2 linked regions of the Homo sapiens genome follow. The protein of the gene in region 1 interacts with the protein of each later gene in a pairwise test. Each region holds a gene or a part of one and is shown on either strand. Other genes may lie near its edges.

Region 1 (9,985 bases):
AGTTTGAGACCATCCTGGCCAACATGGCAAAACCACGTCTCTACTAAAAATACAAAAAAATTAGCCAGGCGTGGTGGCAGGCACCTGTAATCCCAGCTGCTCAGGAGGCTGAGGCAAGAGAATTGCTTAAACCTAGGAGGTGAAGGTTGCAATGAGCCAAGATTGAGCCACTTCACTCCAACCTGGGTAACAGAGTGGGACTCTGCCTCAAAAAAAAAAAAAAAGTATACTCTGGGGCCGGGTGTGGTGGCTCACGCCTGTAATACCAGCACTTTGGGAGGTCAAGGCAAGAGGACTGCTTGAGCCCAGAAGTTTGAGACCAGCCTGGACAACATGGCAAAACCTCATCCCTAAAAAAGATTTAAAGAATTAGCCAGGTATGGTGATGCATGCCTGTAATCCCAGCTGCTAGGGAGGCTGAGGCAGGAGGATCTCTTGAGCCAGGGAGGTTGAGGCTGCAGTGAGTTATGATCGTACTACTGCACTCCAGCCTGGGAGACAGGGTGAGACCTCGTCTCAATTTTAAAAATAAAATATATATATATATATAAAATATATATTATATATAATATATATTATATATAATATATATTTTATATATGTATACATACATATATATACTCTGCAAAGAACTTCATACTTATTAACTCAGTTAATCTTATTATTCCCACTTGACAGATGAGAAAATGAAGGCATAGAGAGCTAACATGCCCAGGGTCACACTTTTAATAAGTCAGCAGAGATTTGTGCTGTTCTCAGCCTTTCTCTCTCATCCCTTTCCTCTCTGATCCTCAGCTCAGGGATCTGAACCCAGGCACCTGGTTCCTGCCTCTGTCCCCTCACCCACCATGCTGTGCTGCTTCTCTTTGTCCACGTATGTGTCCGGGCAGGGGCTCCTCACAGTCCCCAGCATAACACTTGTGGAATGGATTAATACTGCACCCTTTTCGACAAGCCACCCTCGTTGGGAGCAGCTCTGGAAGAGGAGTTTCCCATCTACCTATGACCACAGTTTCTTTAAAGTTGGTTTAAAGAGAGAAGTGGTTTTGTGGACCAGACAGACAAGAATGGAGATGAGACAGAGCCCTGCTGCTGTCCAGCAGGGAGAAGTGCAGCTACAGGGGAGGGGAACACACTAGGCCATCTTGGGACAGTCATTCTCCGGCCTCACAATGTTCTCATCTGTGAGATAAAGGGATTGAACTAAGTGGTCTCTAAGGCCCTCTCAGCTCTAAGTGGCATAATTCTAGGTACCAGAGAGATTTCCGGTGCCTGAGGAGGGCTTGCTGCTCTGAGTCTGAGTGGCATGTGGGACTAAGTCATGACACAGACAGGAAGGAAGAAAGCAGGCTAGCAACAGGCAATCAGAGTGAGGTCTGTGGCTCCCTTAACTCTGAGACCCAAGGACCTGCCACTCCCTGATGAGAGGAGTGGGAGGGAGCTGGTGGGGAACAGCCTGTCAACACACAACTGTCTGGGGAGCAGACATCAAGACAGCGAGGCCTGGCCTCTGCAAAAAGGAAGAGGAACAGAGCTGCCTGTGGGGATTTCCATGTCTTGATAGCAGAGAGGGGGGAAGCTGGAGGCCATCAAAGGAGGTGACAGGGGAGAGAAAGTCTGGAACAGCACAAAGAACCAGACCCAGGAGGCTCCATCAGGCTGAAACGAAACTGGATCCTCACCTCCCCCCTTATTCCAAGGCCACCAATCAAGGGCACCATCCCAAAACCTCACATCGCATCTCAGAAGAAGATATGCAACCCAACAGCCCAGGCAAAAGGCCGCAAATGCCATAAAGCACCATACCATTTGACTAAGCAACTTTACTTCTACAAATTTCTTTCAAAAAAAGAATCCTAAGAATGAAAAGCACAAGGATATTTACCTGCATTATTTACATAAATAGCTTTAAAATGCCTAAATTAGAGCATACTCACTTGAAAAAGATGTTAAGTAATCAGAATTATGATTATGAGGATGGTGCAATCACATAAAAAAATAAAAATACAGTAAATGAAAAAATTAATACATAGAACCATACCCATGCTTTATTTACAGTGAAAGGAAAATGCATCCCTTTATGGGCAAGACCTGCAAGAGATTCACGCAGTCAAAATGACCAGGTGGCAGGGCTGCCTGTGTGTGAGAGGATATTTTATTTTGATGATGAATGCTATTATAATGCCATTTTTAACAAATACAAAGAGAATAGAAAGAAAATGAGTAGACTTAAGACTCTATGAAAAGAGAGAAAAATAGGAAAACAAACTTCTTTTTCTGGCAGGTTTTGGCAATTAGGGCTCCCTCCTTAATTGCCGAAGGGAGGGAGGGAGGGAGCATCACCATACCTGGCTAATTTTTTTTTTTTTTTTTTTTTTTAGAGATGAGGTTTTGCCATGTTGTCCAGGCAATTTGGGAGGCTGAGGAGGAAGGATCACTTGAGGCTAAGAGTTCAAGATCAGCCTAACCCACACTATTGAGAGGCCAGGCCAAAGGGAGTTTCACCATTCAGACCTATCTCTGTGTTAGCTCCTACCCTGGACAGAAGCCATCCACCACCAGCAGCACCTTCCTACCTCCTTCATGCCCTCAGACACACACAGGCCTGACCCAGACACCCCCAACCAGGCTCCCTTGGCAATGGGTATTTGGGTGGGAGGGAAGTCCTTGATGTCTGAGGGCTCTTATGCCAGATCCTGCCATGTTTGCTCATGAAGCATGCATTTATTCATTGATTGATTGAGAGACAGGGTCTCAGTTGCCCAGGCTGGAGTGCAGTGGCACAATCACAGCTTACTGCAGCCTCGACCTCACAGGCTCCGGTGATTCTCCCACCTCAGCCTCCCGAGTAGCTGGGACCACAGGCACACACCACTATGCCTGGCTAATTTTTGTATTTTTAGTAGAGATGGGGTTTCACCATGTTGGCCAGGCTGGTCTTGAACTCCTGGTCTCAAGTGATCCGCCTGCCTTGGCCTCCCAGGGTCTAGGATTATAGGTGTGAGCCATCATACCAGCGCACAAAGCATTTTTAGCTTGCTCTAATCAACTAAAAATACTTTTCAGGACACAGCTTTCTATAACATATCTTCCTTTCTCTTTAGCTTAAATCAACCTTTCCCAAACTGGATGCCATAAGAAATTGATACCTGTTGCTGGTAAAACAGGTCCTGTGGTCAGTTATTGGGAGATGTTGCATTCCACAGCCCCTCAACTCACATTCATAAGGCTCATTAAAATCAAGGATCATAGAGTAACATTAACATACAGAACCCTTTTTGTTTTACAGAACCCATAAAAATCTTCCGCAGAACTACTACCAGTGTCTTAAATAGTTGGTAGATAATTCATTCCAAGACCGGGTGCAGTGGCTCATGCCTATAATCCAAGCAATTTGGGAGGCTGAAGAGGATCGCTTGAGGCCAGGAGTTCGAGATCAGCCTGGTGCAATATGTCAGAACCTCATCTCTACAAAAAATAGAAAAAAAAACAGCCAGGTGTGGTGGCATGCACCTGTGGTCTCAGCTATTTGGAAGGCTGAGTTGGGAGAATTGCTCGAGTCCTGGAGGTGCAGGCTGCAGTGAGCCATGATGGCACCACCGTACTCCAGCCTGGGTGACAGAGCAAGACCTTCTCTCAAAAAAAAAAAAAAAAAAGCAAGAAACAACAGCAACCACAACAAAATAATTAATTCCATATCTTAGTATGGACCAAGTAACCCACTTGGGGTGCTGCAGGCCTTAGCAGCTGCCCCCACATCTGCTGCCTTCTGGATGTCCTTGGCAGACAGCTCCCACCTGCCAACCCGTCCCTCCAGAGTGTCTCTCCTCTCAGACCCTCCAGACACCTGCCAGGCCAGGCCTGACAAGGAAAGCTCACTCTGCAGATGCCAAGCAGAGCTTCAGCTCCAGCTGCATGTTCACGCCTGGCTTCCAACCCTTTGTCAGCTGAAGCCAGCAGGCTTGGGAGGCTTAGCTGTGAATTCACCAGCATCAGTCAGCCAATGATACAGCTTATCTCACTGTTACATGCAACACGCTCTGATGAACTTGAAGAAGTGTCCCAAAGTTAGAAAGTTCTAAAACACTGCCAGTTTCAACAAACAGTAACTTTTCATGGTGCCACAGTCCCTCCAGAAAGGAAGCCCAGTGCCACTGAAATCCCCTCGTTATACGAAGGAAGCTGGTTCCTACTCTTGCCAGACTCCCCTTGCAGAAGCCCCGACACAGACCTGAGCCTGGCTCCATGACTGGTCCTGAAGATGCCACTCAAGTGATGCACCCGGGTGAGGTGCTGCCTGCCACCCAGGAGGCTCAGCTGAGTCAGTGCGTGCGTGCAGCTGGCTGGGTCCTGTCTGCCGGCTGGAGTAGGAGGTCTCTGTTTTGCATATCTGTGAGCAGCAGTGAGCCAGAGCAGGAAAAGCCTGGGCTGGAAATTCTCTCGTGAATATGAAATATGAGTGGAAAATTTCCAAGAGCCCTGAAGTCCCCAGGTAATCCCAGTTATCCAAAACAAAATGGCTGTGGTATCCTGAATGCAGTGTCCTGGCCCTCTTCACAGCCCTCACAAGAGGAAACTAAAGCGGCGGCTTCCTCTTTACAACAGTAAACTCAGCCGTCCTGCCCAGCTGCAGGAGATAAGCCACAGCCTCCCTCTAACGCCCAGCCTCCTCCTGAAAGCTGAGTAGCAACGAGCGATATCATCACCTTTGCTGCTTCCGTTCTGAACGTGCTTCAGGCCTGGCTGCATTTTATCAAGGGGATTGGTCTCAGGTACAGCCCGACCTGCCTCTTCTCAGAAAGCCCCCCTAAAGCAGCCCTCCCAAGGGCACCCCATAACTGCCAGGGGGAGCTTCAATCCCAGTTGCTAATACAATCCCCTCCATCCCCTCCTCCTCTGAAAGGGAAAGACCATGAACTGCTTCCACCTTTCCCAGGAAAGGACAGAGACTCAGGGAGCAGGAACTGCCTCAGCACAGAGGCGGACAGAGGACAGGGGCAGGCTAGGATGAAAAGCTGACAGCCCCATCCCACTCCTTCCTTTCTTCCCAGAAGGAAGCCCACATCACAGGTGACTGCGAAGCCTGATAAGCTTTACCAGAACCCCCACCCCCATCCACACACACAGAAAAGGAGTACACCCCAACTGACCCACCGGAGCCCACCCCAAACCCTCCCCTGCTTACAGCCGCTCACTGCTCCCACGTGGGCCTCCAGCTCCGAGCGCTGGCTGGACTCTGCCACTCCTCCTGGGGAAGGTGGAGCCTGCCTCAAGTGACCCACAGGAGCAATCCTCTAAAACCAAGCAGGGTTGATTAAAATGGCATCACAGGGTGCAAAGCTCTGATCTTCATCTGCCCTTTAGGAGAGTGGGAAGGCTCAGAACAGACACATAGCCTCCCAGTGACTTAGGCAAATCCTGTGGTCCTGGGAAATAACCATGAGCAAAATGGCTATTTCTGTGGTGCTGTTGAAATCCTGGGGAGAAGAGCTCAGGAAGGATGGGTCAGTTGTTTACCGGGAGGCTAGCTGTAACCCTGACTTGGGCCTGAGTCACCTCCGCATGTCCAATCGTGAGGTTGTGTCTTACTGAGCTCACATCATAATTCCTGTGTGCACAGAGCAGTATTACAGGGTTGACACATGATCCTCGGGCTGCTGCTGGGCTTTAGCTACCCAGAGATTACGGCCCACCTGTCCTCACAGCTGTTTCATAAACAGTGCAACCAGCAGGCTACAAGCAACCTAGAGGGAGGGTAATATTTATTCATTAAACAATTAAATGAACTTACAGTATGAGAAAAAAATCCAAGCCCTTAGTACTATTCTGCCAGAAGGAGGAGGGGCAGATGACTTTTTCTGCTAGTGTTTTGGGGAAAGGGGAGGTAGAGTGGGGACTGCAGTGGGAGGATTCCAGCCCAAGGATTTAAGTCCGACACGTTCAGGGAATTTTATTCTGCACCTTTAACCGGATCCCAGCTAGCCTTAGTCTAAACAAGCATTTTTCAAAGTGCAGTCTGCAGAACATGAAAGGTCAGAAGGCTTGGAAAACACTGCATCCTGTAGTCCCTTATGGGTATTCATGCACAGTTTCTACTAGCAAATTCAACACCTGAGAAGTCCTGCAGTAAAGAAAGCTGCTTAACTTTGTTTAACCCGACGCACTTATTTGACCATCCTAGAACTGCTGTCATAGGAAAAAAACACCTATTAATATCTTGTGGTATCGGCTTTGGGAAACACCCTCCACCTTGAGTCTTCATTTTCCAACTTAGAGAAAGCTGCCTTCCTGGAGCCCAGTTTACAGGTATGAGACCCATTGCATCGGGTTCAGACAGAAACCAGCAGCAGCTCCACTAAGATGACACAGGTTGTAACAATGACCAAGGGTCCTGCTGAAGCCAAAAGGCGGGAAGACTCCCCAGAACATGGGCAGTTTAGAAGAAAAATACAGTTCTGTCCCAGAAGAGCAAGCTCTTCTCAGGACCTCACAATTCCACCTTGAGCCTAACTTGTTGCTGCTTCTTGCAGCCAAGATGTCTCTGTGGACTGAAGAGCACTGATCCCAAGCTCAAAGCCTTATTTCCCTTTCGAACAAACATCAAGACAATTTATGATAACCAGATACAGGGCCCGCTTCTCCTGCCCGAGACTAGACTGCATCCCCTTTTATCACTTAAGCACCCCTTACAAACTCTAAAAGACAGGAGAGGACGGAATCAAATTATGTCTCATCAAGAAAGATATCGGCCGGGCATGGTGGCTCATGCCTGTAATCCCAGCACTTTGGGAGCCCGAGGCAGGTGGATCACAAGGTCAGGAGATTGAGACCATCCTAGCCAACGTGGTGAAACCCCATCTCTACTAAAACACAAAAAATTAGCTGGGCATGGTGGTGCGCACCTGTAGTCCCACCTACTTGAGAGGCTGAGGCAGGGGAATCACTTGAACCCAGGAGGCAGAAGTTGCAGTGAGCTGACATTGCACCACTGCACTGCACTCCAGCCTGGCGACAGAGCAAGACTTTATCTCAAGAAAAAAAAAAAGAAAAAGAAAAAGAAAGATATCACTCTCCTCCCCAAAAGCCAGGCATGAGCTTGCATAGAGGGGTTCATTTTTCTTCTCATTTGTGAGGTGTGTGTGACTCACACAAGGAGTTGGACAAAGGGGATTCACTTGCTAAATACCAGCTCCATGACAAATCTCGCCTGTCTCATTCACAGTTGTATCCCCATACCTGAAATATGGTCGACATTCAGCAAGTATTTGTTGAATGAATGAATGCATAAAACAATGAACAAGTGAACTAGCTATTTATAATAGATCAATCCACCTATGGCAATCTCAGGAATGAGTAGAGTGTATGGCTAAAAACGTAGACTCAGGCTGAGTGTGGTGGCTCACGCCTGTAATCCCAGCGCTTTGGGAGGCCGAGGCGGCCAGACCACTTGAGGTCAGGAGTTTTGAGACCAGCCTGGCCAACATGGGGAAACCCCATCTCTACTAAAAACACAAAAATTAGCCTGGCATGGTAGCGGGCGCCTGTAATCCCAGCTACTTGGGAAGCTGAGGCAGGAGAATCGCTTGAACCCGGGAGGTGGAGGTTGCAGTGAGCTGAGATTGTGCCACTGCACTCCAGCCTGGGTGACAGAGTGAGACTCCATTTCAAACAAACAAACAACAACAAAAAAAACTCCAGCTAGACTCCCTGCATTTGAATCCTGTTCCACCACTTAGTTGTATGACCTTGGGCAAGTTAAATAACTTTTCTGTGGCTCGGTTTTATTCCCTATGAAGTGTGGATAATAAAAAGCCAATCTCATAGGTTGCCATGACAATGAGCATAAGTGAAGTGTTTAGACTGGTACCTGGCATAGAGTATGTGTTTTATAAGCATTATCTGCCAACATCATTGTCATCATCATTATGATATCAGATACGAGAGAGAAGAACTAGGAAAATGAACATGAAGTTTTATCTAGACACTGAATCCTTTTATTCAACCTTATTTATTGAGCACCACCATGTGCCTGGCACTCTCCCAAGTTTCTATTACCTGGGTGCAGGAAGAAGGAAAACATATTTAAATGTGAAGCCAGATCAGGAGGAGGAACATCCTTCTCCCCTATGAATGGTACTTCTCGGTGACTGTACACAGCCAGGACTCCAGCCATGAGCTCATCCTCCCATGCCCCAGTCAGTTCCTTACAAATCAAAAGCCCAAAGCAATTGTCTGTTGTCCTAGATATGCAACCAGCATACAGAAGAACTAAGAGATTATTATACTTGGTGGAAGAATCATGGAGGCCAATGGGCAGCTTTAGGGGAGAAAGGGTATCTCCCTGTTAACCCGAAGGCTACATGTTATCTGCCCATGACATTTTCAAGACCTGAGACAGATTTTGAGGCCATTTGAAGAGTGATCCAGTCAGTGTAGAGGCAAAAAAAAACAACTACAAAAAACCTCATCTCTCAAAGAGCTTCTTGACCTAGCTGAGAGCTAGGAGAACCTTAGAAGACAGAGGCTGAGCTAAGGATGGGACTGAGAGGTCAAAGAGTCTCCCAGCCACCACCTATGCAGGTGTCATTATTCCTAGAGAGGGCAGCCCCATACCATCATCCTCAGAGCAAGCCAGGCCCCATGAAGCTGCAGCCAGGCCAGGCCAACTACCCCAGACCTGCTGTCAACACTCCTAGAGGTGTGAAGTGACAGAGGCTCTGTCTGTCTGGCTCAATGGCTCCACTAACACTCGGCCTTAGTGCTGCACAGCCAGGGAAAGAATTTCTCCTCTGCAGGTTCCAGCTGCAGGCAGCTTTTCCATGAAGATGGCCAAATGTTGGTCACTGCATCCTGAGGGAAAGCCAACAGGGGCTCAAGACCATGCTAAAATCCCTCCTTGTGCTGCCTGCTTTCACCCAGCTCCTTTGCTGATGTGTCGCCATCAAGCTTTCAGCCACATACAGTTTGGGGAAATGATACCCTAGTTAGCAAGCCTCTCCTACTCCAAGGCCTCTCAAAACTCTCCCCAGGGACCTCTGCCAGCCTACAACAGCCATTAGCAGCTCTGCTGGCAAAGCAGCTACCAGAAGATCAAGGGCAGAAAGCAGACTGCCAGAGCCCAAGGCTGTACACCTCCCTTGCCGGGAGAGAGCCAAAGAGGTAAGGATGAAGGCCTCAAACGACCTCATCACCCTATCATCCAGTGCATCCCTCGCCTCCAGGTAGAAGTCCACCTCAGCTGTCCACATCCAGCCAGTCCTCAAGCACCTAGGAACTTTGCCCAGGGTGGCAAGTCCCAGGTCCCTTAATTTCTCTAAACCTTGCGATTCCATTCTAGGCCGCCAGGGAATCGGGATGCTGCCCGCTCACCTGAGGCCGCTGGGGCTCGGGCCACCGCAGAGGCAGGGGTAGGGACAGGGACAGGAACAGGGGACAGGGCAAGGGATCGGACCGGAGTCAGCGCCACCGCCTCTGCGAGCAGGGAAGGCGGAAGCCGCGGTTCAGACCCCAGGGCGCTGCTGATTCCCGCCTGGGCCGCAGGGTCCGCGGGGCTGGCCCAAGGTCAGCAGCGCAGCCTCGCGCGCACTCACCGGGTTCGGACGACAGGGCCATGCCGCCGGCCGAAAGGGACGGCCGCAGGGCTGGAGCAAAGGGGACGCGCTGGGCAGAGCGGAGCGGGGCTGCTGGGCACTGAGGCCAGCCGGGGCCAGGGCCCGGCCAGGCCGCGCCCCGCAGCAGGCGCGGGGGCCGGGCGTTCAGAGGGCGCAGCGCTGCGGATCCCCGGCCAGGAGGGCCCCGCGGGAGGAGGGAGGGCCGCCTCAGCAGGGAGGAAGCCGGCCAGCCGCGTGCAGCCCCCGTCGGTGCCCTACCTGGGCGCGGAGCGGAGCAGAGAGAGCCGAGAGGCTACCTGAAGCGCCCGGGCCGCGCCGCCAACGGGAAACTTGAGAGCAGCAGGGGCGCGGCGGCCGCCAGGGCCCTTGGCCGG
Region 2 (12,460 bases), on another chromosome or scaffold:
ACATCCCTTCACACTTCTTCGCAGTGAGTGCCTCTCAAGCTTTGACACCAGGCAACCACAGATCTAATTTCTGTTACTATAGATTAGTTTGTATTTTCTAAAATCTCATGTAAATGGAGTAAAACAGTGTAAACTCATTTGCGTCTGGCTTCATTTACTCAGCATGAGGTTTATGAGCTTCATACACATTGCTGCATGCAACTATAACATTCCTTTTTACTGCTGAGTAATATTCCATTGGATGAACAGACTATGATGTATTTACCCATTGTCCTGTTGACAGACATTTGGGTCATTTAAGTTTTGAGATTACTATGAATAAAGCTGCTATGAACATCTTTGTACAAGTCTTTATGGAATTACATATTTTTCTTTTGGGGGTAAATATCCAGGAGTGGGACTTCTTTTCTTCTTCTTTTTTTCTTTTTTTGAGACAGGGTCTTGCTCTGTCACCCAGGCTGGAGTGCAGTGGTGCAATCTCAGCTCACTGCAACCTCCACTCCCCAGGGTTAAGCAATTCTCCCACCTCAGCCTCCCTAGTAGCTGGGACCACAGGTGCTTACCACCATGTCTGGCTTTTTTTTTTTTTTTTTTTGTATTTTTAGTAGAGACAGTGTCTCGCCATGTTGCCCAGTCTGGTCTTGAACACCTGAGCTCAAGTGATCCGCCTGCCTCAGCCTCCCAAAGTACTGGGATTATAGGCGTAAGCCACCATGCCTGACTGGAATGGGATTTCTGGGTTGTATGTTAAGTGTGTGCTGAGCTTTATCAAAGATGCCAAAATGTTTCCCAACGTGTTTGTACCATTTACATTTCTGCCAGCTATCTATGAGAGTTTCTATTGCTCCACATCTTTGCCAATGCTTGGTATTATCAGTCTTTTTAATTGTGGCCATTCTGTGCAATTGTATTTCATTATAGTTATAATTTGCATTTCTTTGAAGACCAGTGATATAGAGCAACCTTTCATGGGTTTACTGGCCATTCATATATCTTCTTTTCTTAAATATCTCATCAAATCTTTTGCCTATTTTATATGAAGTTGTTTATCTTTGTATTAAATTATAAATGTCCCTTATATATTTTGGATGCCAGTCTTTATATTGGTTTGGTATCCTGGTATCTTTATATATCTGGTATATAATTTGCAAACATTTTTTCCAAGTCCATGGCTTGCATTTCCATTTTCTTAAAGGTGTCTTCTAAAGCACAAAATTTTTAACTTTGATAAAGTCAAATTTATCTACTTTAAGAAATGATTCCTTATCCTTTCCTACTCCAAAGTTGTAAGAATGTTTCTCCTATGTATTCCTTAAGAAAACAGCTTTTGTTTTAATATTTAAGTCTATAATCCATTCCAAGTTGATGTTTATGTTTGGCATGAGGTTAAGGTTAATGTCCATTTTTGTTTCCAAATGGATATACAGCTGTGAAAACACGGTTCTTTCCCCTTTGATCTTTTTGGCATCTGTTGCATTGACATATGGGTGGGTCTATCTCTATTTTTAAAAAATATTTATTTTTTATTTTTAATTTTTGTGGGCACATAGTAGGTGTATATATTTATGGGGTACATGACAAGTTTTGATACAGGCATACAATGTGTAATAACCACATCATGAAAAATGGGTATCCATCCCTTCAAGCATTTATCCTTTGTGTTACAAACAAACCAATTACACTCTTTTAGTTAAAATGTTCAATTAAATTATTGACTACAGTCACCTTGTTGTGCTACCAAATACCAGGCCTTATTCATTCATTCTATTTTTTTTGTACCCATTGACTATCCTAACTTCCCCCACAGCCCCCCTACTATCCTTCCCAGCCTCTGGTAACCGTCCTTCTGCCCTCTATCTTCATATTGTTTTGATTTTTAGATCCAACAAATAAGAGAGAACATGGGATGTTTGTCTTTCTGTGCCTGGTTCATTTCACTTAATGTAATGACCTCCAATTCCATCCACGTTGTAGATGATTAAATCTCATTCTATTTTATGGCAGAAGTACTCCATTGTGTATAAGTACCAGATTTTCTTTATCCATTCATCTGTTGATGGACACTTAGGTTGCTTCCAAATCTTGGCTATTATGAACAGATCTGCAAAAAACATGGGAGTGCAGATATCTCTTTGATATACTGGTTTCCTTTACATGGGGTATATAGCCAGCAGTGGGATTGTTGGATCATATGGTAGCTCTACTTTTAGTTTTTTTGACTCTCTATTTTGATCCATTGATCTATATGTCTATCCTTATGCCAATTCCCTACCATCTTGACTACTGCACATTTTCATTAAGTCTTGAAGTAAGGTAGGTTTAGTCCTTCAACTTTGTTCTTTTTCAGATGTTTTGGTTATTTTAGGTTTTTTGCATTCCCATATCAACTGCTACAAAATACCTGCTGGGATTTTGATTGAGATCACACTAAATCTATAAATCAAATTTGGAGAATCCACATCTTAACTATATTGGGCCTTCCAACCCATGAGCATGATTTATCTCTGTGTTTATTTAGTTCTTTACTTTATTTCAGCAATATTTTATAGTTTTCAGTGTATGAGTCTTGCACCTGTTTTGTTGAATTTTTCTCAAAGTATTTTGTGCTTTTTGATGCTATTTTTCTTAATTTAATTTTCTGGTTGCTTGTTGGATGTAGAATTATAAATGATTTTTGTAAATAGAACTCATGTCTTCACTTTGTTAAATTCACTTATTATTTTTAGCAGTTTATTTGTAGACTCTTAGGGTTTTCTATTAATACAATTATACCATGTACAAATAAAGACAGTGTTAATTCTTCCTTTCCAGTCTATATCCCTTTGGTTTCTTTAAATATAGTGAATTATATTGATTGGTTTTTGAATGTTAAACCAACCTTGCCTTCCTAGAATAAAACTCACATAGTTGTATTGTATCATCCTTTTTATATATTGCTGAATTCAATTTGCTAATATTTAGTGAAAGCTTTTTTATCTGTGCTCACGAGGGAGACTGTTTTGTAGTTGTTTCCTTTCATAAGACCTTTTTTTCTTTGGTTTGGGTATCAGGGTACTATTGGACTTATAAAACAAGCTGGGAAATGTTCCATCCTCCTCTATTTTCTAAAATTTTTTTGTAGGATTGATATTAGAATTCACCAGTCCACCATCTGGGCCTATAATTTTATTTGGGAATGGTTTTTAACTGTGAATATAATTTCTCTAAATAATACAGAGCTAGTCAGATTTTCTGATTCTTTTTAAGTCTGTTTTTGCCTTTTGTGTCTTTCAAAAAACATGTTCATCTAAGAGCTTCCCAGGGGAATATGGATGGGCCCCTTACCCTAGCCCTCCACCATCTGACTCTGCTGACCTGTCAGGCTCATCCTGCACTAGTCTTCAGCTTCATACCTTCATCTGCAGCCATCTGAAGCCTTTCTGTTTTTGAAACACATGAAGCTCTATCTTGCCTCAAAGCCTCTCTAGTGGCTGTTCCTTCTGCCTGGAACACTTTTCCTGGCTTTTTGTATAACTGGTTCCAGTATGACGACACCTCCTTGGAGAGGCCTTTGCTAACCTTCCCTGCCAAAATATCTTCTACCTGCTGATTCCTTTTTGGCCTGTTTATTGTCCATCTCTCTATGCTGCTCCAGTGTGGGGCCTAGTCTGATTGTTCACCTCTTTACCTCCAGCACCTAGAACACCTAATAAGCCTTCAAATCTGTGTTAATTAAAAACATGACTAAATGAATGAGGAATGAAAGTTGGATAAACTCTCTGAGCTTACAGAGAGAAGCTTGCCGGGTTGAGGTGAAGATTGGTGCTGATATCTATACCTCCAGGCACCGTGCCTGGCACACAGGAGCTCAGCAAGTGGAGTGTTACAGGATGCCAATTTCCAGCTTCCACTGAGATACCAGGATACAGTGGATACCAAAGTGAGTTTTGAGATAGACCTGAGGGTATTTCACTGGCTAGAGACATGTCCTCTGAGGTTCTAAAAGTGCAAAGCAGTGAAGATTCAGAAATTATTTGTGATAATTTCTGTAAAGACAGCTGTACCTTCCATTACCCCCTTGGCGGTTGTATTAATAGGCAAAATAGTTTAAGGCCAATATGACCCAATTGTAGGTTCCTCTTCCTTAAAAATCTTTCTTTTCTATTCTAGGTGCTGCCTACAATTCCACCATTTCAACTTTTAGCTTTGACTTGTGGCTCCTAACCTTCCCAAATGCAGGTTCCCTAGGGAAGAGTAACTCTTCACACTGAAACAAGTCATTTTTATCCACTGTGTAATATCTACTGAATCTAGGTGACCCAGTGAGAATGAATCTGTTTAATCCTTTCTGGGCGCTTGGGAACAGGGCAGGGTAGGGCAATGAGGGAGGCCTTCTTTATTTTGCCAGGGACCAGCTCTGTTAGCCCCAAAGCAGAGCCTGCCTCATTCAGACAGTGCTATCCTCATGCCTGGGGCTGTTTTCTGTTGGGTTAGTTACCTTCACTGGAGCCCTCTCACACCCCTGGCCCCAGCTCACTTACCTCTTTGTTTATGTATCCGTCCTTGTTGATGTCATACAAATTAAATGTCCACCTTAGTTTCTCGTGGACAGTTCCTCTCAATAAAATCGACAGAGCGGTTACAAAGTCCTGAGAAGGGGAAAAGGCAGAGTGACATTAACCATCAAGCCATCAGACAGTGTGAAGCTGTGTCTTTGGGTCAGACTGTGATACTCTCACAGAATGGTGCCTCCTGCGTCCTCTTGTCTGCCTGGAGGATGTGGCTATGCTCTGTGAAGAGCTCCTGCCTTCAGTTCCCTACCCTGCCCCATTTTTTTGTTTTTTTTTGCAAGGTGCCCCCTTGAGGAAGAATGGAGCTCTGAGAGACACAGATCAACACAGCCAGCCCTGTTTTTGCCTTATCCATGGCTGCAGTGGTCTGTCTATCATCCCAGTGGCCGTATGGTCTAGTGGCTGAGGACGTGGACTGTAGGAACAGTCTGTATTGAGGGTCATTCTGCCTACATTCAAATCCATCCTTTATCATTTATGTGCTCTTTGACCTTGGGAAAACTACTCTATCTCTCTTTGCCTTACTCTCCTCTTCTGTAAAAAGGTAATCAATAATAAAACCCTACCCTATAGGGTTATTGTGGGAATTGGAGTAAATGAATTAATACATACAAAGCCCTAAGTACAGGGGCTGCCACTGGGAAGCAGTGTGCCCGGAAGCTCATACACTGTTGTTATTAGTCCCCTGAGTCCCTGAGTTCCTGCAGGCCAGGGAAAGTTGCTGCTGCTTTTCCCCATCTTTAGGAAATGCTTACAAATGGATAAACATGTCTTTGGTCTGACTGAGAGCTTTTGATGGTCCAGACCTTCCCCCAATGCCTTGAGATTTAGAGGGGGAGGTGATGCAGAACCAGAGGACCCCTAGAGTGGACCCCAGATGAGCGTACCTCGAACTTCACGGAGCCTGTCTGAGTGGTGTCGAAGGCATTGAAGAGGTAATGGGCATACGTGCTGGCATCTACAAGGCAGAAAAGGAGGGCAGGTGATGGGGGCAGGAATTCCACACAGGGAGAACCTTCCAAACAAGGCAGGGCTTCGACAAGAAAGAGAGGAGAGTGATGCTAGGGTGATGGAAAGGAGAAAATTATGGAGTGGGGCCCATTGACTCAACTCTTTGGGTTTGGGTGTGAAGTTAGATCTAGCAAAAAGTGAGATGAGCCCTTGCCCCTCCCTCTAGCCATCATGAGAAAACCATTCTCCTGCCTGTCTATGCATGGAGTCGTTGGTGTATGAATGGCACAGTGACTGCATGACAATGTTCTTCTGAACGGCCATGAATGCCTGGGATGAGCACTCACTCCAGAGTAGAGAGACCTGAACTTGGATGCCGCTGTACTACATAAGCTATGTGACTGTGGGCATCAAGCACGACCTCTCTGAGCTTCCCTTTCCTACCTCTCTACAATGGGATGTAGCAAGACCTATCTCTTGAAATTTTTTAAAAAGTATTTTAAACTACAGCTGTGCCTGGCATACAGTGAGAACTCAATAAACAGTGGCTCAGTGGAACTCAGCAAACTGCAATTCTGGGGCCTGCATGGGACAAAACTGCCTCCCCCACCTGATCTGGGTAGGGGCCCCACACACCAAGGAAGGCATCTGTCTGCTGCCAAAAAGGCCCATGAGAAACAGGGCCCAAGAAGTGTTTGGAATACTTGGATTTGCATTTTGTCAGGATCCAGGGAAGATGTCTTGCAGGAGACAGCTCTTGGTGACAGGATGCAAAGTGGCATGTGACACATGGAGGCCACAGGAGGAGTCACCGATGTGGTCCCAGGCCCATGGGGACACAGCTGGTTCCCACAGGAGTCGGGCAGGGCAACAGAGCAGCTGTTGTGGGCCTGGCACACTTGTAAACTGGCTTAATAAGCACAACTTTATGTTTCCTGCCTCTTTTTCAATTAGTTTATTTTTATAGTCTTCGGTATTTACTGAAGTTCTTTTACAAAATTCCAGCTTGTCTCAGCTATTTTAAGGAAAAGATTCAAAAGTGCCCTGCACAATGGTGGTGCCAGCATGGCAAAACCTGTTTCAGACCCTTATGGAATCTAATCCTGGTTTGCTACTCACCAGCTGTGCAATCTTGAGTACACTGCTTATCTTCCCCGAAACTCAGTTACTCCATCTGGGATTATAATACCTGCTTTCTAGAGCTGTTCTGAGACGTTGTGATGTTGCATTATCAGCCCTTCTTCCCCTTCCAGGGTGGGTTCATTTTCAGAGTTCTTTCCTGCTAAAGCTTTGGAGACTCCCACCTCTCACGATGAGGGAGGTGTCCTGCCCTGAGTTTGTCTCTTCCTCGAGAAGGAAGCAAATGGCAAGGAAGAGAGGACTTGGAGGAAGGGAAGGCTGCTTACCAGAGAGGGAGCTGGGCAAGATAGATTTCAAGGTCAGACTCACCTCCATGAGGGAAAAACTGAGCATAGATCTGCTTGAATGTGTCTTCGTTGACCACACCACTGGGGCACTCCTGTGGGAAGGGGAGAGAGTCAGCGGGAGGCATTTGAGGGCCAGCACTAGGAGAAGACTGGGCCCAGCCTTGGTGTCTGGGGTTCCTCATGATCCCCAGGGACAGGGACCTGTGCATTTCCACTTCTCCCAAGTAGTGCCATCTCAGGACTGGAGCTGCTTTGCAAAATGATGAGACATTGTCAGAGAATGGGCACTGTGAGGTGGAGAGATTTGGGGCTTTAAGATCAGAAAAACCTGGGTTTAAATCCTGGCTCAGCCAATACTAAGCTTTGTGACTTTGGCCAAGCCAGTCTCTGATCCTCAATATCCTTACCTGTAAAATGGGGGTAACAATAACTTCCCCAAGGGTATCTTATGAACCTATGTTAGGTGGTATTGAGTCCATGGTAGATGCCAAGCAGTGTAGATTTCTTCTCTTTTCTGGATGCTGTTCCCTCTGAGCCCAGTGCCTGCCTGGAAAACTTTCCCACAGGATCCTTCTCCAACTCGGCTGCCCACTGCTAATGCTGCCATCGAAGGAAAGAAGCCCTAATGGTAGGAAACTGGGCACTTGGCATGTGCAGTCAAGGCTAGTGTGGAAGGAAGAGGCATCCCAGCACCTGTCAGATAACTCCCAGGAGGGGCTGGAATCCCTGTGGGTCAGCAGTTTGGAGAACATTGAGGCTGTGGTCAGTTTGGAACTGACCCAGCTCAGCTCTACCTACAGACTGCACCTGGAGGGAGGGTGACCAGGTGCATGTCGCTGTAGCCCACCCCACTCCACACCACTCCAGGATTTGGGAATAAGATTGCACTCTGAGAGTTAAACTTAAAAAATAAATTAATATCCAGGATTGTATCTGAGAGCTCTCAAACTGGCCTGAGACTGCAGGAACACATTAATGTATTTAAAGTAACAACTAAACAAGGAACTCCCGTCCTCTGACTCCACTTTTGATTGTAACCTGGCTTCCATGTGGCTTCCAAGGAGAGCGGGTCCCAGCGAAGGGAGAGGAGTGTCTGTTTCCACTGTCAGTTCCATTTCCCAAGGTAAATTAATACACCGACATTCGGCTTACACATCAGTCTCGGTGAGCCTGGTTAGCATAAGTCAGCAGGGCCAAATCCCATTATTGTGGGGGCACCACCAGGTTGGAAGGTATGATTATGTTAAGGGCTAAGGCTTGACCCTGGGCCAGGGTGAATTCCTTGAGGATGTGCCACCCTGTGAAATTTCTGGGCAGTTGGCCGTTTACTGTCTCCTGAGGTTGCTCCATCCTCGCCTGGAGCCTTCCTTTCTAGCCAGGTGATCTCCCTCTCATGCCCCCTTTATAGAGCTGGCCTTCCTTGTACAGCCTCACATATGGGAAACGCCTTATGAGCTCCCTTGGCATTGGGGAGAGTGTAGCCTCACGTGGGAACCCCCCCCAGGCCTTCAGAGCGTGCACGGGTCTTACATTTTTGAAGCCTCGATAAAGGACCTGCAGCTCCCTCTTGGTGAAGTTGGTCTGGGCCTCGAGCTGCTCCAGTCCCTCGGGCCGATGGCAAACCATGGTCATCTCCAGCTCATCTTCAATCTTATCTGGAACCAGAGGAGATGGCATTGGAATGGTTGAGCTTGGGAGTCATTCTTGTTAGGTAACAATCTGGGCTGTCAAAAGAGTGGTGTCACGACCTGGGATCTAGGACTGTGGGCTGGGGTCACACTGCCAATGGCCTTCCTATCTTGAACCCCACTTCCCTGCCCTGTCAGCCTCTGCGTCAAACACCACACAGGGAGGGGGCTTCGGCGTTGGAGAGAAACATGTTCCCAGTGGAGGCAAAGGCAGAAGTGCTCAAAATAAATCCATATGAAAACATTTTCCTTGCTTTAAAAATAACTTCTTTGCATATTCAAATTGTTTCCCATGGAACCTTCTGAATATTCCAGAGACACAGGCAAGTAAGCAGAATGATAAACACCTCTAGACAGCAAAGGGAAACAAAATTATTTAAAGAAACAGTAAACTCTCACCATTGGGGCCAACTAGGAATGGATAGCATGATTTAGCAGAAAGTTCAAATTACGGCATGTTAAGTATTACTGATAAAAATCTGAATGTATTTACAGCGTATTGTTTTGTAATGTCTACTAGATAGCCTTAAATACTAGGAAAATATCTTAAATGGGAGCTACTTTGTACAAACCATTTGAAAGGCTCTAAAAACAGTTGTTGTAAGTAGTAGTTTAAGTATGTCTCCCTTATGGACTATAATGTAATATAAGATTGCATTAGTTATTTAGAAAGTGTCTGTCAATTAAAGCAAGGAATCTGCCCATCTTCCACTGAAGGATCACAAGGTCCAAGTCCGTGGAATTTTCAACGTTTTACCATCACAGAGGGGTAGGTGAGTGATTTCCTTTGGGCCCTGCCAGAATGTGTTCTATAAACTTACACCAATCAAGAATCAATTGCCATCTAACCTTCTCTGCCTGTTGTTGTCATGCAGATATTACCAAATCCATCTATTGAACAACTGTAAATCTGGGCTGGCAAGAATAGTGATGAGATGGGTGGCTGCTGGGAATATGCACAGACCATGTCTCATCCTGTGGCAACCCACAGCAAGCACAGGCTGAGTTGCCACATCAGGTGAGCAGGTGTATTAAATTGTGTGCATTTCTCTCATCAGTGTTGGTCTCATTGCACCAGATTTTCCCTGAAATTGTCACTTTCCCTTTTGAGACTTTGATCCCAATACAAAAGGAATCCATCAAATTAAGTTTGTATCTTGTACATATCCCCAAAGGTGATGGATGTTCGTGTGAGGCTCCCGTAACTTGGTAACAATTCCTAATTGCCATCTTTCTCATGTGCTGGGCAATACATATCACCTTATCCTGCTGGGACTAAGGCAGATGATTTGTTATAAATTAGATACTGTTTACGCCACAGAGACAAGTGGCCAATTTCCCCAGAATTCATAATTCTTACAGAGCCTTTAATTATGGTTGTGTTTGTAGCTAACAAGATAAGTAGCAATTATCTAAACGCTGAAGCATTTCTACGTAAATGAAAGGGCTTATTCTCAAAAAGAAAGAAAGAAAAGGAGAAAAATTCACATAAGTCTAATTCAGAATGCTTATATACATATTAATATTTTACATCTATTTTAACCCATTTTAACAGAGAAATTAATTGTTGGTTTGAATCTCCTAGCATTAGATCTAAAAGCATTTTTATTTTTAAAATGCACATCTGTTTATCTGTGCATATATTCACAAGAAACTTCCGAAGGGGCTGCAGAGGTTTTCACATCCCTCCTTTTGCCCCTTAGGAATTCCCTGGGTACGGCCCAGGTGGCTTGAGTGAAGAAAGGAGATGAAGCAAAAATCACATTAAAATGCAAATAAAGAAAATGGGAATATTGTATTTTTTGAGTAAATGAGGTATTCTTGAAGACATCCAGTACACTGTTAGATTTATCTTAGCCAGAAGCATGAAGGGTTTTTTGCAGTACACTTAATTCCTTGATCTTCCTGTGACTGAATTCCTCACAAGCTCGGGAAATTTCTTTGTGGGAGCTTGAGAGACTCTTTCCGACTCAAGAAACAGCACTTGTTTCCCATCACCTTCATAAAAAATGCACTAAGTAATTATTGAGATATCAACTATTAAACCCACTTCATTAAGGAGGAACTGGACTTTATTAATAAATGAGTTGTTTGCTGTCTGGGTAGCAGGATCAACTTCTACATCAAACAGATTCTGTAGTATCTGCATATTTGGATACTGACTGCCAAGCTTTTGTTTTGTTTTTCGTTTTCATCATTGGCTAAGTGTCAGGCTGTGGTAACATCGGTTGTGGAAGGAAATTTACTTCTTTGGGGCTCAAGATGCTGGGAAGTAGCCTGCCTGTGGATGTTAGGTAAACCAGTGGCCCTCTCTTTGTTTCTTCTTTCTTTTGCTGTATTTTATAGTAAGAATTGTAATTTAAATCACAACCCAGTATACACACATGTATATAAGTGAAATGTTAATGAAATATTTTGAAACAAAAACTCCATGAAATGATCCCATCCCTCACTAATGTGAGCTGTGCTCTGGTCTTAGTTTTAATGTATTCCTTTGTAGACTCGTGCTGGTTGTGACGCTCATGGGTCATGACTTTTGATTGAACTGCACTGATTTAACTTGTCTACAGCTGTGGCAACCTCACAGGAGTGCCCACGCTGCCGCTCTCACATCAGCTCTCCCTTCCCTTTCTTTGTATGCCTTGTGGTGCTGGCCGCTGTAGACACATTCACAGGAAACTTTACAGGTGACGGGCAGCGGTTTTCACCACCCTCCTGTTGCCACCTGGGGATTCCCTGGATGAAGCCCAGGTAGTCCCAGTAAAGGAAGGAGAATGGCCCTGTTCCCTGTGTGCAGGAGGAGAGAAGAGCGTGAACCCGTGGGGAGCCTCCTTGACAGTTCCTTCTGAGGTTTGTTCAAAGTCTGATGCCAGATGTTGCTAGTCATTACTTTGTTATAAAAAATAATGATGAGCTAGTTACTAAGTCAGACTTAAGTTTGAATGGTTGAGATAAAAATTAACTTGAGATGTAATACTATGGCAATAATGACATAACAAGAATAAATTAGAGCACCTTTTGTTTGTAAAGTACTTTTAAGCCATTCAGCGTTCTCATGCCTGTTGTTCCATAACCTTACGTGTGAAGGGAGTGAGGGGACCATTGCCCTGCGCATGTGATATTAAGAAGTGATTTTCTAACTGTGAGTGCCTCACACAGTGATGAATACCTATCACTAGGGGCAAAGAGAGATGGAATCACCAACTCTAGAGGATGCTACACAGGAAATTCTCAGATTGAATAGTAGATGATTTTGATTAAGTGATCCTTAATGTTTTGGGATCATAGACTCTTCTGAGTGTGGAATGAGGGGTTTAGACTCTCTCAGGAAAAAAAATGCACAATCACTGCACATTTGCTTATTCAGTCATGTGTCGCTTAACAACAGGGATACGCTCTGAGAAATGTGTTGTTAGGCAGTTTTGTCATCGTGTGAACATCGTGGAGTATACTCACGCAAACCTAGATGGGGTAGCCCTGCTACACACCTAGGCTGTATGGTATGGCCTTTTGCTCCTAGGCTATAAACCTGTACAGTGTGTTATTGTACTGAATACTGTAGGCAATTGTAACACAATGGTAAGTATTTTAAGTATTTGTGTGTCCAAACATACTAAATTTAGAGAAGGTACAATAAAACTAAGGTGTAAAAAATAAAAAATGGTACAACTATTAGGGCACTTACCATGAATGGAAGTTACAGGACTGGAAGTTGCTCTGGGTGAGTCAGTGAGTGATGGTGAGTGAGTGTGAAGGCCTGGGATATTACTAAACATGAGGTAGGCTTTATACATACTTTATGCTTAGGGCTATACTAAATTAATAAATTTTTTTTTCAATAAGA

The links.
Region 2: the proteins of AMPD3 (region 1) and KCNIP1 interact in binary tests that used the Homo sapiens proteins (3 or more experiments, as listed by UniProt).

The regions. Positions count from the first base shown.
Region 1 is NC_000011.10:10,450,649-10,460,633, reverse strand, and holds the start of AMPD3 (AMP deaminase 3), read right to left. Parts: upstream 5,371-9,985; 5' UTR 5,186-5,370; intron 4,579-5,185; exon of another isoform or gene 4,248-4,578; coding exon of another isoform or gene 4,232-4,247; intron 1-4,231. UniProt on the Homo sapiens protein: AMP deaminase plays a critical role in energy metabolism.
Region 2 is NC_000005.10:170,714,881-170,727,340, reverse strand, and holds part of KCNIP1 (A-type potassium channel modulatory protein KCNIP1), read right to left. Parts: intron 8,584-12,460; coding exon 8,459-8,583; intron 7,021-8,458; coding exon 6,951-7,020; intron 5,584-6,950; coding exon of another isoform or gene 5,509-5,583; coding exon 5,438-5,508; intron 4,629-5,437; coding exon 4,521-4,628; intron 1-4,520. UniProt on the Homo sapiens protein: Regulatory subunit of Kv4/D (Shal)-type voltage-gated rapidly inactivating A-type potassium channels. Regulates channel density, inactivation kinetics and rate of recovery from inactivation in a calcium-dependent and isoform-specific manner.